Regions from separate parts of the Homo sapiens genome. Here region 2 is linked to region 1. A link means that fine-mapping ties the variant in region 1 to the expression of a gene that starts in the linked region. Tissue or cell type: whole blood. Region 1 holds a variant in brackets; the other region holds the start of a gene. All regions are shown on one strand. Distances are from middle to middle.

The links. PIP is the estimated chance that this variant, and not a neighbour inherited with it, causes the effect.
Region 2: LTBP3 starts here. The variant in region 1 is fine-mapped to the expression of LTBP3 in whole blood (TOPMed, PIP above 0.99).

The regions. Positions count from the first base shown.
Region 1 is chr11:65,505,971-65,514,070 of GRCh38, forward strand. MALAT1 (metastasis associated lung adenocarcinoma transcript 1) reads left to right here. Exons shown (of 1, transcript NR_002819.5): 1 at 1-546. It also overlaps TALAM1 and MASCRNA. Among named protein-coding and RNA genes, the nearest start is that of MALAT1, 11 kb to the left of the region's middle. RefSeq lists enhancers at 802-901, 1,402-1,711, 1,424-2,105, 1,822-1,891. The variant C/A (reference allele first, on the strand shown) is at 3,420.
Region 2 is chr11:65,553,877-65,561,976 of GRCh38, forward strand. It overlaps LTBP3 (latent transforming growth factor beta binding protein 3), which reads right to left and starts at 4,483. Exons shown (of 28, transcript NM_001130144.3): 1 at 3,753-4,483; 2 at 175-504; 3 at 1-27. The coding sequence starts at 4,083. RefSeq lists silencers at 4,312-4,551, 4,602-4,761 and an enhancer at 7,253-7,916.

The DNA of each region.
Region 1 (8,100 bases):
CCAAGCTAGCATCTTAGCGGAAGCTGATCTCCAATGCTCTTCAGTAGGGTCATGAAGGTTTTTCTTTTCCTGAGAAAACAACACGTATTGTTTTCTCAGGTTTTGCTTTTTGGCCTTTTTCTAGCTTAAAAAAAAAAAAAGCAAAAGATGCTGGTGGTTGGCACTCCTGGTTTCCAGGACGGGGTTCAAATCCCTGCGGCGTCTTTGCTTTGACTACTAATCTGTCTTCAGGACTCTTTCTGTATTTCTCCTTTTCTCTGCAGGTGCTAGTTCTTGGAGTTTTGGGGAGGTGGGAGGTAACAGCACAATATCTTTGAACTATATACATCCTTGATGTATAATTTGTCAGGAGCTTGACTTGATTGTATATTCATATTTACACGAGAACCTAATATAACTGCCTTGTCTTTTTCAGGTAATAGCCTGCAGCTGGTGTTTTGAGAAGCCCTACTGCTGAAAACTTAACAATTTTGTGTAATAAAAATGGAGAAGCTCTAAATTGTTGTGGTTCTTTTGTGAATAAAAAAATCTTGATTGGGGAAAAAAGATGGGTGTTCTGTGGGCTTGTTCTGTTAAATCTGTGGTCTATAAACACAGCACCCATAATTACAGCATAATCTTCAAGTAGGGTACGGACTTTGGGGGATTGGTGCGAGGGTAGTGGGTGAGTGGCCTACTAAAAAGCCCAGTAACCCCCACAGGAAAATAGGGAACTTCTTTTTAAGTAGCCTCCTTTCCACTATTTAGTAATTGGCTGTGAGCTGGGCTGGGGGAGAAATGGGGCGGGGTGTGTGTGTCATTGGAAAGCTCTCTTTTTTGTTTTTTTGAGACAGTCTCACTTTGTCCCCCAGGCTGGAGTGTAGTGGCATGATCTCTGCAAACTGCAACCTCCACTTCTGGGGTCCAAGTGGTTGTCCTGCTTCACCCTCCCTGTAGCTGGGACTACAGGTGCACACCACCACGCCTGGCTAATTTTTGTATTTTCAGTTAGAGACGTGGTTTTACCATATTGGCCAGGCTGGTCTCAAACTCCTGACCTCGTGTGATCCACCCGCCTGGGCCTCTGAAAGTGCTGGGATTACAGGTGTGAGCCACCAAGCCTGGCCGATCCTTTTAAGTTTTTAAACCAGTTAAGCTCTTTGGTTCCCCCTCAGAGTCCCAAGGTCCTGGGTCACTCAGGATCACATTTTCCTTTAATCAGTTGTCACTGGTCCCCTTTTGTCCCTTTGAACGTGCTGTGGGATTAGTAGCAGCATCTGGCTGTTGGAAGGACTGGCTGGGATCTCAGGTGAAATACCCTCCCTGGCCCTCCTTACCCTTAAGATCTCCCTGAAAAGTCAGACCTTGCTTATTGGAGTTTGAGATGCATTCTAGTAAACCCAGACCTACCAGAGAGAGGGACCCACGTCTGAAGAATCTTCCAGCCTGGGGAACCTGTGACTGGCCACACCCTTAGCCTAATGGAGGGGCCTCAGAAGCAGAACTACCTTTTTTTTTTTTTTTAATGGTATTACATTTTGCAAATGGAGAGGTAGACTCTGATTGGGCCCCTTTTGACAACGCAGCAGAGCTGAGGTTTGAATCCTAGTCAGTCAACACTTCAACCCCTATGTTGCTGTTTCTTCAATGTCTAGAATGTTCTGATAGATGAAGCAATGGCCCGGCAGGTCAGCAGCACACCAACCCCCAACCTACCCAGCCTGTATAGGCCTTGGCCACAGGAGCTTTCTCTTCCCTTGAAGTGATCTAATGGGGGATGGGGTATCTGTCTCGCTGGTTATGAAAGAAGCTGAGCTAGGTGCTCTCCTAAGTTGCTTAAGTGTCTTCTGAATTGATGCCCAGTCAGTTTCGTATGGAGAAAGGTCTCTGTTTTTCCAAAGCAGAAGGTTCTGTGGAAGCACAAATACTTTACTGGAGAGCAAAGGAGTACGAGTAGGAATTGGGGGCCACGCACAGTGGCTCACGCCTATAATCCCAGGACTTTGGGAGGCCGAGGTGGGCAGATCACCTGAGGTCAGGAGTTCGAGACCAGCCTGACCAACATGGAGAAACCCCATCTCTACTAAAAATACAAAATTAGCCGGGCGTGGTGGCGTATGTCTGTAACCCCAGCTATTCGAGAGGCTGAGGTAGGAGAATCGCTTGGACCCGGGAGGCGGAGGTTGCAGTGAGCTGAGATTGCGCCACTGCACTCCAGCCTGGGCAACAAGAGCGAAACTGTCTCAAAAAAAAAAAAAAAAGAAGAAGAAAGGCTGGGCACGGTGGCTCAAGCCTGTAATCCCAGCACTTTGGGAGGCCGAGGCGGGCGGATCACGAAGTCAGGAGATTGAAACCATCCTGGCTAACACGGTGAAACCCCGTCTCTACTACACACACACACACACACACACACACACACACACACACACACACAATTTGCTGGGCGTGGTGGAGGGCGCCTGTAGTCCTAGCTACTCGTGAGGCTGAGGCAGGAGAATGGCGTGAACCTGGGAGGCGGAGCTTGCCGTGAGGTGAGATCGGGCCACTGCACTCCAGCCTGGGCGACAGAGCGAGACTCCGTCTTAAAAAAAAAAAAAAAAAAAAAAAGAGTAGGAGCTGGGCATTCGCCAGGGGCTACGTAGTTCCTGGAGTTGAGGAAGTTCTCCAGGATTGAAAAATGTAAAGATCAGACACTGATCACAGCAACAGGAGGAGGCAGAAAAGTAGGCCGGAAGTCATTTCCACCCTCTGAGCACAAAATGGAGAGCATAAATTCCCCAAAAGCTCCTGTCCAAGTCAAGGGGACTGCGCTTTTTTTTTTTTTTTTGGAAACAGAGTCTCCCTCTGTCGCCAGGCTGGAGTGCAGTAGTGTGATCTCGGCTCACTGCAACCTCCGCCTCCTGAGTTCAAGCGATTCTCCTGCCTCAACCTTCCGACTAGCTGGAACTACAGGCGCGCCACCACGCCCAGCTAATTTTTGTATATTTAGTAGACGCGGGGTTTCACCATGTTGGCCAGGATGGTCTCGATCTCTTGACGTCGTGATCCTCCCGCCTCGGCCTCCCGAAGTGCTGGGATTACAAGGATGAGCCACCGCGCCCGGCCGACTGCTCTTAATAATATAAACAAGCCCTAGGCATTCCCCATATGTACTCCTCCAGTTGTACACAGGGACCTCAGTTTTTTCTTTTTTTTTTCTTTTTTCTTTTCTTTTCTTTTTTTTTTTTTTTTTTGAGACGGAGTCTCGCTCTGTCGCCCAGGCTGGAGTGCAGTGGGGCAATCTCGGCTCACTGCAACCTCCACCTCCCAGTTCAAGCGATTCTCCTCCCTCTGCCTTCCGAGTAGCTGAGACTACAGGCACACGCCACAACGCCCAGCTAATTTTTGTATTTTTAGTAGAGATAGAGTTTCGCCATGTTTGCCAGGCCAGTCTGGAACTC[C/A]CGACCTCAAGCGATCTGCCTGCCTTGGCCTCCCAAAGTGCTAAAATTACAGGTGTGAGCCACCGATCCCGGCCCACAGTTTTGGATTTCATCATCCTGATAATCCTGAGTTCAAGGGGCAGCTCCACCATTCCCCAACCCCTCCAAAACCTACCCTCTCAAGCCCCTCAGACCGAGGATCAGGGGCTGGTTGGTATGGACCTGTGTGAGATTTGGTTTGTTTTTGTTTTTGATACAGGGTCTCATTTTGTAGCTCAGGTTGGAATGCAGAGGCACAATCTAGGCTCGGCTCACTGCAACCTCTGCCTCTCAGGCTCAAGTGATCCTCCCATCTCAGCCCCGGGGTAGCTGGGATTATAGGAACACCTGCCACCACACCTGGCTAATTTTTTTTTTTTTTTGAGAAGCAGTCTTGCTCTGTCACCCAGGCTGGAGTGCAATGGTGCAATCTCGGCTCACTGCCTGCCACCTCCACCTCCTGGGTTCAAGCAATTCTTCTGCCTCAGCCTCTGGAGTAGCTGAGGCTACAGTTGTGCGCCACCACACCTGGCTAATTTTTTTGTATTTTTAGTAGAGACAGGGTTTCACCCTATTGTCCAGGCTGGTCTCAAACTCCTGACCTCGTGATCCGCTGTTTTCGTTTGGTTTGGGGTTTTTTTTTTTTTTGAGATGGAGTTTCATTCTTGTTCCCCAGGCTGGAGTGCAATGGCGCGATCTCCGCTCACTGCAACCTCTGCCTCCCGGGTTCAAGCAATTCTCCTGCCTCAGCCTCCTGAGCAGCTGGGATTACAGGCATGCGCCACCATACCTGTCTAGTTTTGTATTTTTAGTAGAGACGCGGTCTCTCCATATTGGTCAGGCTGGTCTGGAACTCCCGACCTCAGGTGATCCACCCGCCTCAGCCTCCCAAAGTGCTGGGATTACAGGCTTGAGCCACCACTCCTGGCCTAATTTTTGCATTTTTATTTTATTTTATTTATTTATTTATTTATTTATTTTTGAGACGGCGTCTTGTTCTGTCGCCCAGGCTGGAGTGCAATGGCGCGATCTCAGCTCACTGCAACCTCTACCTCCCAGGTTCACGCTATTCTCCTGCCTCAGCCTCTTGAGTAGCTGGGATTACAGGCACTCACGACGGTGCCCAGCTAATTTTTGTATTTTTAGTAGAGACGGGGGTGTCCGCCATGTTGGCCAGGCTGGTTTCGAACTCCTGAACTCAGGTGATCCGCCTCCCTCGGCTTTCCAAAGTGCTGGGATTACAGACTTGAGCCACTGCACCTGGCCCGGGCCGAGTACTTCTGACTTCAGGAAATGGATGAAATTACCAGACTTAGGGGAAGGGAACAGTGTGGGGAAGAGATCTGGGAGGGTTCTCATTCATGGGTTGTTGATTTGGAAGACCAGAAACCTGGCTCTGACAAAGCAGTGTTCTTTACGCCTCTGTTTTCCTATCTTTAATTGGGGACAGTGCTCTGTCAGTTTACTGTGACAAGCAAGAGTAGCCACAGTAGACCCACCTGGAAGCAACTAGAAATGACTTGGCTCTTGCTGCCATCTAGTGAACAAATTGGGCATTGCATGCGTTAGCTTTGGAATACATTGTAATACACTTGTTCAACAAACTTTTTTTTTTTTTTTGAGACTGAGTCTCACTCTGTCACCCAGGCTGGAATGCAGCGGTGCCATCTTCACTCACTGCAACCTCCGCCTCCTGGGTTCAAGCAATTCTCCTGTCTCAGCCTCCTGAGTAGCTGGGATTACAGGCTCCCACCACCACGCCCGGCTAATTTTTGTATTTTTAGTAGAGACAGGGTTTCACCATGTTGGCCAGGCTGATCTCGAACTCCTGACCTCAGGTGATCCACCTGCCTCAGCCTACCAAAGTGCTGGGATTACAGGCGTGAGCCACTGCACCCGTCTCAACAAGCATTTTTATTGCTGAGTAATACTCCCTTGTGTGGATATACCATGAAATTATTTTTAAAAATATTGGCTGAGGGCTGGGCGCGGTGGCTCATGCCTGTAATCCCAGCACTTTGGGAGGCCGAGGAGGGTGGATCACCTGAGGTTAGGAGTTCGAGACCAGCCTAGTCAATATGGAGAAACCTCCTCGTCTCTACCAAAAATACAAAAATGTTACAAACCTCACATTCGACACATGTATCCCAGGACTTAAAGTTAAAAAAAAATTATCTGAGTGTGATGGCACATGCCTGTAATCCCAGGTACTCGGGAGGCTGAGGCAGGAGAATTGCTTGAACCAGCGAGGCAGAGATTGCAGTGAGCCGAGATCATGCCATTGCACTCCAGCCTGGCCAACAGTGAGATTCCATCTCAAAAAAAAAAAAAAAAAAAAATTAAGGCCAGTCTCAGTGGCTCACGCCTGTAACCCCAGCACTTTGGGAGGCCAAAATGGACAGAACACTTGAAGTCAGGGGTTTGAGACCAGCCTGGCCAATGTGGTAAAACCTTGTTTCTACTAAAAATACAAAAAAATTAGCTGGGCGTAGTGGCACACATCTGTAATCCCAGCTATTCGGGAGGCTGAGACATGAGAATCACTTGAACCCAGGAGGTAGAGATCACGTCACTGCACTCCAGCCTGGGTACCAGAGTGAGACTCTGTTTAAAAAAAAATAAAAATTAAGAGTGGCTGGGCATGGTGGCTCACGCCGGTAATCCAAGTACTTTGGAAGGCTGCAGAGGGTGGATCTCTTGAGGCCAAGAGTTTGAGACCAACATGGCCAACACAGCAAGACCAAAAATATACAAAAATTAGCCAGGCGTGGTGGCTGGCTCCTGTAATCCCAGCTATTTGGGAGGCTGAGGCATTGCTTGAACCCAGGAGGTGGAGGCTACATTAGGCCGAGATCGCACCACTGCACTCCAGCCTGGACAACAGAGCAAGACTCTGTCTCAAAAAACAACAACAACAAAAAAGAGATTGTGTCTTGCTTTGTTATCCAGGCTGGTCTTGAACTCCTGGACTCAAGGGATCCTCCCACCTCAGCCTCCCAAAGTGGGATTACAGGTGTGACCCACTGCACCCAGCACTGGTGTTTTTTGTTTTGTTTTGGGACATGGTCTCACTTTGTCGCTGTTGCTCAGGCCGCAGTTCAGTGGCAGGATCTCAGCTTACTGCAGCCTCTGCCTCCTGAGCTCAAGCCAGCCTCCCACCTGAGCCTCCCAAGTAGCTGGAACCATACAGGTGCATACCACCATGCCTAGCTAATTTTTTTTTTAGATGGAGTTTCACTCTTGTTGCCCAGGCTGGAATGCAATGGCACGATCTTGGCTCACTGCAACCTCCACCTCCCCAGTTCAAGCAATTCTCTTGCCTCAGCCTCCTGATTAGCTAGGATTACAGGCATGCACCACCATGCTAGGCTAATTTTGTATTTTTAGTAGAGATGGGTTTTCTCCATTTTGGTCAGGCTGGTCTCTAACTCCTGACCTCAGGTGGTCTGCCCGCCTTGGCCTACCAAAGTGCTGGGATTACAGGTGTGATCCACCGCACCCGGCCTTAATTTTTTTATTTTTAGTAGAGATGGGGTCTCTCCATGTTGCCCAGGATGGTCTGGAACTCCTGAGCTCGAGTGATCCTCCCGCCTCAGCCTTCCAAAGTGCTGAGATTACAGGTGTGAGCCGCCTCGCCTGGCCACAGTTGCGTATCTTCTTTGGTGAAGTGTCTGTTCATTTGTGTTGTGTTTTTCTCTTTTCTTTTCTTTTCTTTTCTTTTCTTTTTAAGACGGAGTCTCCGTCTGTCGCCCAGGCTAGAGTGCAGTGTTGCGATCTCGGTTCACTGCAACCTCCACCTCCCAGGTTCAAGCGATTCTCCTGCCTCAGCCTCCCAAGTACCTGGGATTGAAGGAGCGCCCCACCACGCCCGGCTAATTTTTGTTTTTTTAGTAGAGACCGGGTTTCACCAGGTTGGTCAGGCTGGTCTTGAACTCCTGACCTCAAATGATCCACCCACCACGGCCTCCCAAAGGTGTGAGCCACCGTGCCCAGCCATTTTGTGTTTTTTTTTTCTTGCCATTGTTGTTGGCATTTTTATCTTTTGTTGAGTTGTAAGGGCTTTTACATATTCGAGATAGAAGTCCCTTGTCAGATTTTTTTTCTTTTTTTACTTCTGTTGTATGTTTATTATTTATTTTGTATTTTTTGAGACGGAGTCTCGCTCTGTCGCCCAGGCTGGAGTGCAGTGGTGCAATCTCAGCTCACTGCAACCTCTGCCTCCCGGGTTCAAGCAATTCTCCTGCCTCAGCCTCCCAAGTGGCTGGGATTACAGGCATGCACCACCACACCCCACTAATTTTTGTATTTTTAGTAGAGACAGGGTTTCACAATGTCGGCCAGGCTGGTCTCAAACTCCTGACCTCAAGAGATCTGCCTGCCTTGGTCTCCCAAAGTGTTGGGATTACAGGCATGAGCCGCTGCCCGTGGCCTGTTTTATGTTTAGATATATGTTTTGCAAAAGTTTTATCCCAATATGTGTCTTTCTTTTCATTTTTTTGTAACAGTGTCTTTGAGGAGTAGAAGTTTTAAATCTCTTTTTTTAAATTTTTATTGTTACAAATGTTTACTTAATAAAAAGCTTAATATAAAAATGCACATGGCCCAGGCCGGGCGCGGTGGCTCATGCCTGTAATCCCAGCACTTTGGGAGGCCGAGGCGGGCT
Region 2 (8,100 bases), 48 kb after region 1:
CATTCACCACGGGGGGCGGGGCCTGCACTGGGGGCGGGCGCGGTGGCCTCAGGGCTGCCCGCACCGCGCCGCGGGTCACCGCGCTGAGCTCCTCCAGGGCTGAACCTGCCCTGCCCTGGCCACCCTAGTGCCCACCCACTGGCGACCTTCCCGGGTTTGCCAGTTGCCTGGTACCTTCTGCTGAGATCTGTCCCGGGCCTAGGGGCACCAGGAAGGCTGCGTGCTGGGCAGGAGGCCCCTCCCCGGGCCCAGGAGGGTCAGCGATCACCTGGACGGCGTAGATGGCGTGCTTGCTGGCCACAGAGTCGCCCTCCGGAGCCAGGGGCGGCAGCGCCCCTGTGGACAGGGCCCCTGTCCTGCTCAGGCCGGGGCCTGAGCCGCCGGTACCCCCACCGGCTCCTCCTGCGGGCACCTGGCAGAAGCGCCCAGTGAAGTCCGGGGGACACAGGCACTGGTTTCGCGAGGAGCACTGGCCGCCATTCATGCAGGGGAGAGGGCACACCACTGGGGAGAAGAGTGGGGTCAGGCCCTCACCCACATCCTGTCTCTTTCCCCTCCTCCCTACTTCCTTGCCACCCACTGGCTCTGTCCTCTTGGGAAGCCAGGTTTTGAGATACATCCTACATAGGGAAACTGCCCTCTCTAGGTTCCCCAACATCCTTACACCTATGTTGGGTTCTGGAGTCTCAAGTCCAGGATTTAAATCCTCGCTAAGCCATGTGCCAGCTGTGCGACCCTGAGCAACTCACGTCCCCTCCCTGTGCCCCAGCGTCCTCATCTGTAGAGATGTGTGGGTTAGATGAGGTAAGGGCTGTACAAATGCTTACCCCAGGGCCTGGTACACAAAGGGTGCTTAATAAGTGGTAGCAAATAATTATGGTGATCTGGCTTTCCCCTTGAGCCTTCCAAAGGTATTGGCTCCGTCCCTGGCGCCTCCTCCTCTTCTCCCATAAACCCTTCCCTCCTTCAGGCCTCAGTCCTCTCTGCCTGCTCTCCACCCTCTCCCTCTTCACCATCCTGGGGCGCCCACCTCACCACTGCCAAAGATGTCCACATCTCAAGACACAGACACAGCCCCCAGCCTTTCCAGGGCTCTCTCAGGCACCTCTGCCCAGGACATACTGTCAGAAGTCAGCATCCTGCCTCCCCACCTCCTCTTCACCTGGCCACCAGGCATCCACAGCTGAGCCCCGACGGCTCCGTCCCTCCTGCTCTCCCCTGCCCAGTTACAGCCTCTAATGTCCCATGAACCTGCCTCCCCTCCTCCCTAGGGCCACTGCTCCTGCCCTGGCCCAGGCCTGGCCACCCAGACCCCTCCTTGGCTTCCAGCCTCTCCTGCTGGTCCACAATCTCAGTGTCCCAGAGAAACCTGCCTCAGGCAGAAGCTCACTCCATGGACCAGAACCTTTTCAGCCCATCCCCCTCTGCTCCTTCCCTGTGTACTGCACACCCCAGGACCCATCTCCCTCTTGCAAATGTGCCTGCCTCCTGCCTCCTGGCCTCATCCATGCCCTTCCCTCCACAACAGGGCCCCAGGTCCCCCCCCTCTCTATATATGCAGATCTCATCCTTCCTAGCTCAGTGTCTCCACCAGGAGGGAGGCTTTCCTCCTATCCGGCCCCCCTGAGCTCCCTCTCCTGCCTTACCACCCACTGGCCAGCTCTGCCTGGCACCTGCTTGGCTATGTTCTTGTCTGTCTGCCTCCTTATAGAGGGTGCTCTGGAAGGCAGGGCCAGGCTGGCCTCAGCTCTGGGTCCCACAGGGGGTTCGGGGGAATGAATGAAAGAATGACTGAGGGAGAGGATGGGACCTCTGTCTGTTTCTGTCCCATACTCACCTTCAACCTGTGCTACTACCAGCCTTGGGGCTCTGACTCATCCCAAAGCCCCAGCCCTTCTCCTGCCCACCCCATGGCTGCCCTCACTTCCCAGGGCAGGAGGGCAGGAGGGCGGGGGTGCTGCTCTCCTGGATGCCAGAAGGGCCTCACAGGGACAGCCCATATCCATGGCCCTCAGGGTCAGGCTAAGCACATCCCAGCCCAGCCCATCCTGCCTGGCCTCTTGGGGCCAGGCCTCACAGAGCAGAGGGGTGTGTCCTGGGCGGGGGGAGGTAGGATTCTCTTTTTCCTTTCTGCCAGTGAGTCACTCATAGCGGTGAGAGTGACCTCCCAATGACACCCGCCCACTGTGGCCTGGGCACCGAGCCTGGGGGATGTGGGCAGCACAGATGGAGACAGCAGCCTGGGCAGGATGGCCAGGGAGCCTGGGAGATGGACACACGTACACTCACACCCACAGTCCTCTTGTCACACACACACAGAGACTCATCCTGACACCAACACAGGTTCACATAAACATTCCCATACATTTGGCCGGGCGCAGTGGCTCACACCTGTAATCCCAGCACTTTGGGAGGCCGAGGCAGGTAGATCACTCGAGATCAGGAGTTTGAGACCAGGCTGACCAACATGGTGAAACTCCATCTCTACTAAATACAAAAAAATTGGCCAGGCGTGGTGGCGCATGCCTGTAATCCCAGCTACTTGGGAGGCTGAGGCAGGAGAATCACTTGAACCCAGAAGGGGGAGGTTGCAGTGAGCTGAGATTGCGCCATTGCACTCCAGCCTGGGTAACAAGAGCAAAACTCCATCTCAAAAACACAAAAACAAAAACATTCCCACATACTCTCTAACAGCGACTAGAGACACACACCCAAGACAACACAAAGACGGGTACTTCACAGTGTGCCACGCCATGCCCATGGCATGACCCCAGACACAGGGGCAATATGCGCACAGACACACGCACGCACACCCCATCTCATGACAAATTTGAGCCACATGAGTGGGGTTCCTTAGCTCTGTGAGTGGGAGAGTGAATATAGGAATGTGTAAGAGGGGCTGTTTTGCTGGTGCCATCCTGGGCCTGGCCTAATTACCCTGTCCAGGAGGGTAATTACTGCTGGGACACCTCCCCGAGCCTGGCCCACGGGGCCTAGCAGGAGGATGACTGAGCCCCAGGCCTGGCCCTTTAAAGAGAGATGCTGGGGAGGGGGTGGACTCCAAGCTGAACTGGGGAGGGTGTAGGGGCTTGGGGGAGGATGAGGGGGGCCCTGAGGGCCTCTGAGGCAGGATGTTAGGAGCTTATGGGGAGGCATTGGAAAAGGAGAGGCTGAGAACCCCGAACTAGTCCCTACCTTCAGGCCTGCACCCTACTTTTAGGCCTCAACACCCTCCCTACTCAGACCTTGCCAGTAGCCGGCTCCCATCCCCAGCCCTGACCTTAGCTCCTCCTCCCAGGGAATGCAGGTGTCTACTCTGGCAGGCCCTACTTTAGACATTTTGTAAAGACTTTTCTTGTTTCTTCCAGCAAGTCTGCTTCTTGCGGGAATATTTAGCCCTTCTCTGAGGCTTCCTGTCCCCGGCTCACATTCCTCAAAAACCCTGTGTGCTCCTGCTCAGAACTCAGCACCTTCTGGGAAGCCAGTGTCATCCAGGACCTCTGCATTTCCCCACCCCTTAGGCCCCAACCCTAACGCAAAGCTTCAAAGTCCAGGCCTCCATGCAGCCCTCCAACTCTGGCCCCCAGAGTTCCAGCCTCCCAAGTTCCCTGAGGCCCCTGGTCCCCCAGGCCCTCGGATCTCTGCCCTTTATACCCTCAGCCCCCAGTCTCTAAGGCCAAGACCCCACTAGCTCTCCCACCGGGCCTGGTGCCTGTCCTTCCCCTGCCCCCAGCCGTGCCCCCGGCCCTCACCCACGCGGAAGCCGGAGCCCGTGAGCGTGTCTGTGCTGTGGCCGTTCTCTCCGATGAGCGTCATGTTGGAGCCCTGCTGACAACTGTCCCGACACTGGCCCTTGAGACAGGTCCGCTTGCAGATCACCGGCGCAAAGACCACCTTGAAGCGCTCGCGGGCCAGCGCCCCGCCCCCGCCTGCGCCCCGCTCGCCGGCCGGCCCCCCCTCGACCCTGCCGCCCAGGCCCAGCAGCAGCAGCAGCAGCAGCAGCAGCAGCGCCAGCAGCCCCGCCGCCCCCGCCCCGCGCATCTCAGGGGCCAGGCCGCCAGCAGCCCCTCGGGGCCCGGGCATCCGGGGCCGCAGGACCCGGGGGAGGGGGGGCGCGCCCGGGCGGGGCGAGGGGCCCGCGCCCGAAGGGAGTAGAGGGCCGGGAGCCCCGGGAGAGGGTAGGGGGCAGCGAGGGAGGGCAGCGGGGGAAGCGGGCGGGAGGGGACCGCGGGGGCCCGGCGGGAGGCGCGGAGATGCAGACTGGACAGCGGGGAGCGCAGAAACTTCCCAGCCCCAGGACGAAGCCCAGACCAGGCCCCGAACTCAGGCAGGAGCGAGGAGGCCGGAGCAAGTTGAGGCGGAGAGGAGGAGCGAGGGAGAGGAAGGCCGGGCGGCCGGCCCGCTCCGCGCCTCCCCCTGGCCGGGCTCCTCTCCCGCGGCCGCGGGGAGGCAGGGAGCGCGCGGGGAGGGCTCAGGGAGAAGTGAGCAGTTGTTTTCCCTGGCTGGAGCGCGGCGCGGCGGCGGCGAGGGGGGCTGGGACGCTGGCCCCGGGCCAGGGACACAGTTTTTTTTTTTTTGTTGTTTAAAGCGTCGCCTCTGCCGCCTGGAGAAGCGAGGGTGTGCAGGCTGGCGGAGGCTGGGGGGTGGCGCGGGGACAGTCCCCACCCCAGATGCCCGCCCCCGCCGGAACCCGCGGCCGCGCTGGGCCCTTTCCAGAGGGCCCTCACCTGGGACCGTCTGGCCGGCCGCGGATTCCTCCGGGCGGGGCGGGGCGGGGAGGCCTGCGTAGAGCGAGATACCGAGGCTGAGGGAGAGAGGTGGCCCTGCCGGGTCACACTGACGATGGAGGCCGGGTGGAGCCGGAGCCCAGGCCTTCCAGCTCTTTCCCAGCCTCCCTTGCAAACGTGGGGGTCTCAGGGCCCCAAAGTAACTTCTCGTTAGTGCTGGTCCAATCCCCTCTGAGGAAAGGGCTAAAGGGTGGGGACAGCCTTTGGCCAGGGCTCACGGAGGTCCCAGGAGGAAGTCTGTGGGGTCCAGAAGAGGAGCAGAAAGAACAAAGCTAGAACCCAGCTTCCCTGCCAGCCCCCTCGGAATGGCTTCCTGGTGCCCACCCTGCCACCTCCCCCCTTTCCTTTCGTCTGGCCGTGCTGGCGGGGCTGGCTCTGGGCCTCAGACACTCTGGAATCGCCAAGGTCTGAGCTCAGGGCCTGGCCCCCTTCCCAGGCTAACAGCCGGGAGGACGGGGGCGCTGTCCGAGGGCCCAGGGGCTGGAGAGGGGCACAGCAGAGCCCCAGGGCAGGGGCTGGCAGCGGCTGGGGGTGGGGGTCTTCAGGTTGGCCATGGCTGGAGAGGAGCATAGTTCCAGACCAGGCTTGTCCGCTGGTCTGGAAGGAAAGGCTGCAACGTGCGGGGGCCCAGGCCTTACTGTGGGGCCTGCCAGGAGACCCCAGGGTTCCGTCTCTGACTCACAGAACTCAGCAGGAGGTGGGGACGGCTAGGGCACATCCAGGAAAAGCGCTGCCAAGTCAGGGCGGCACCAGACCCTCTCCCGGACAGCACCCGGGGCAGCAGTCTAATTGGGGAGAGGAGGTTCAGGGACTCACTTTCAGGCACACCTGTCCAAGGAACTCTGTTTTTACTTTGAGCGTAAGTTGATGTGGGTAGCTTTAGGGGGACGCTTAGTAAGTCCCCCTTACTAAGCGGTGCAGGGCTGGGAGGGACAATCACATGTCCCCAGGGATCCCTGCTGCCGGAATCCAGGATGGGGTGTGAGGGGCAAGCCCCTGCTTCTTGGGGCCCTGGTCCACACGGAGGCAGGGAATAATGCTAGGTGCCGACCACCTGCCAGGCACAGGGCTGAGCATTGTATACTCATTTTTTCCTAACACTCATCTGAACCTGTCCTGACTCTGCCTAGAGCTGGCTGTGGCTCACCATGGAGCACAGCACAGTCAAACAGTCCAGGGTTGGATTCTTACTGTCTCTAAGCCCCAGTTTCCTTGCTTGTGAGATGGGTATCTATTCACTCAACATCTATGTTCAACTACTGGTAATAAAAAACAAAAAATTAAAAAATAAATGTAAAAAATTCACTCAACAAACTGAGACTCCACCACATCCTAAGCTCTTGGCCACAAATAGAACCAGTCCTGCCTTCCTGGAGCTGCTGTACTAGGAGAGCTGGATATGTGCCAGATCAATTCACACAGAACTGTGGCTACAACAGAGGCTGGTACCGTGACAGAGAAGGGCAGGGAAGCAGGACAGGAGAGGGCTGGGACCTGGGAGACAAAGAGAGTCTTCCATCGGAAGCTGGAAGATGAGTAGGAGTGAGTCACACCTGTGGGCATCTGACCTCAGGGGAGGCTGCAGGGGGAGGCTATCCAGAGAACTGAGGGAAGGCCAGTGGAACAACAGGGTGTGGTGGAGAGGGAGAGCCGAAGGTGTAGTGGTGGTGGGAGGGGCCGGCCATGGTGAGGAATTTGCTTTTATTCTCATTGCAGTGGGACTGTGTCAGGGCAAGAGCGGGCACTCTGCCTTCATCCCAGGAGAGAGATCTCACTTGGCCCTGGGAGAGATGTATTTGGGAGGGGAGATGTAAAGACTGGGTGAAGTAGGGGTGCTGGAGAGGTAGGTGGCATGAATGGCCCCCAGATTCCTGGCCTGATCTCTGGATGGGCGAAGAAGAGGGGAGGCAGAGGAGCTGGAAACATGGGGCAGGGTCCACAGCTCTGTTCTGGTCCTGCTGAGTTTGAGATGCTTGTGAGTCATCCAAGTGGAGGTGCCCGAACCCGGGAGTCTGCAGCTCAGACAGGATGTCTGGCCTGGAGACAGAGGCTTGGGGTTATACAGGGGGCATCTACGACAGCGGGAAAGGGTGGGCTTACTATGGAGAGAAGAGAGCCCAGGGTGCCCAGGGAGATCACTGTTCCCGGGTCAGGGAGAGGAGGCGGAGTCAGGCAGGGAGAGGAGGCGGAGTCAGGCGAAAGACCAGAAAGAGCAGCTGGAGGGAGCAGAGAGGAAAACCAGGAGTGTGGTGGGGAAGAGCCAGGAGGACGGTGTGGCCCTCGGTGTCTAAAGCTGCTGCCAGTATGATGGGGGGATAACAGCCCTTCTTCAGGGGCTGATGAGGGGACTCAGTGAGAAGGATCAATGAAAGTGTCCAGCCCAGTAATGATGCCCAACTCAAATGATATCCAACCAAATTCCTTCAGCTCTCAGGGCCTCCGCAGGAAATAGCTGAAACCACTGGGGCTAGCAACAGAGGGACATCACTCCAGTGCACATTGCTCCACTGGCATAACCAGGGAGGGTGCCTGAGAGGTGTGGCCTGAAGCAGAGCAGCAGCCCCTGGCCCTCTGCAGTCTGCAGGGAGGGCGCTGGGGGAACAATTATCACCCTAATCTCTTCCTAGCCACGGGTCTCCAGCTGGGCCAACCGTGGGCTGAACCCAGAAGAAAGCCTGTGGGCTGAGGGGCCTGGGGGTACAGCAGGTGGAGCTTAGCTTTCCAGCTCAGCAGGGAGGTCAGGAATGCAGAAGGGGTCTGCAGGGCAAGCTGACAAAGCCCAACACACATGGTCTCTTTGGCCTGAACATCTTTTCTAACCTCATCACTACATGTGGCACCTCATTTGCCTAGAATCTGCCAGCACACTTTTTTTTTTTTTTTTTTTTTTTGAGACAGGGTCTCACTCTGTGCCAGGGCTGGAGTGCAGTGACATGATCTTGGCTCACTGCAGCCTCAACATCCCTTAAGCAGCCTCGAGGGATCCTCCCACCTAAACCCCCCCTCCCACCGCCGCCTCAGTAGGTGGAACCATAGGTGCACAACCATGCTTCGCTAACTTTAGGATTTTTGGGGTTTTTTTGGATTCTTTTGGAGACAAGCTCTTGCTCTGCTGGAGTGCAGTGGTACGATCTCGGCTCCACTCTGCAACCTTCATCTCCCGGGTTCAAGCGATTCTCATACCTCAGCATCCCCAATCAGCTGGGACTACACGCTCATGCCACCACATCTGGCTAAATTCTTTTGTATTTTTAGTGAAGATGGGGTTTCACTATGTTGGCCAGACTGGACTCAAACTCCTGACCTCAAGTGA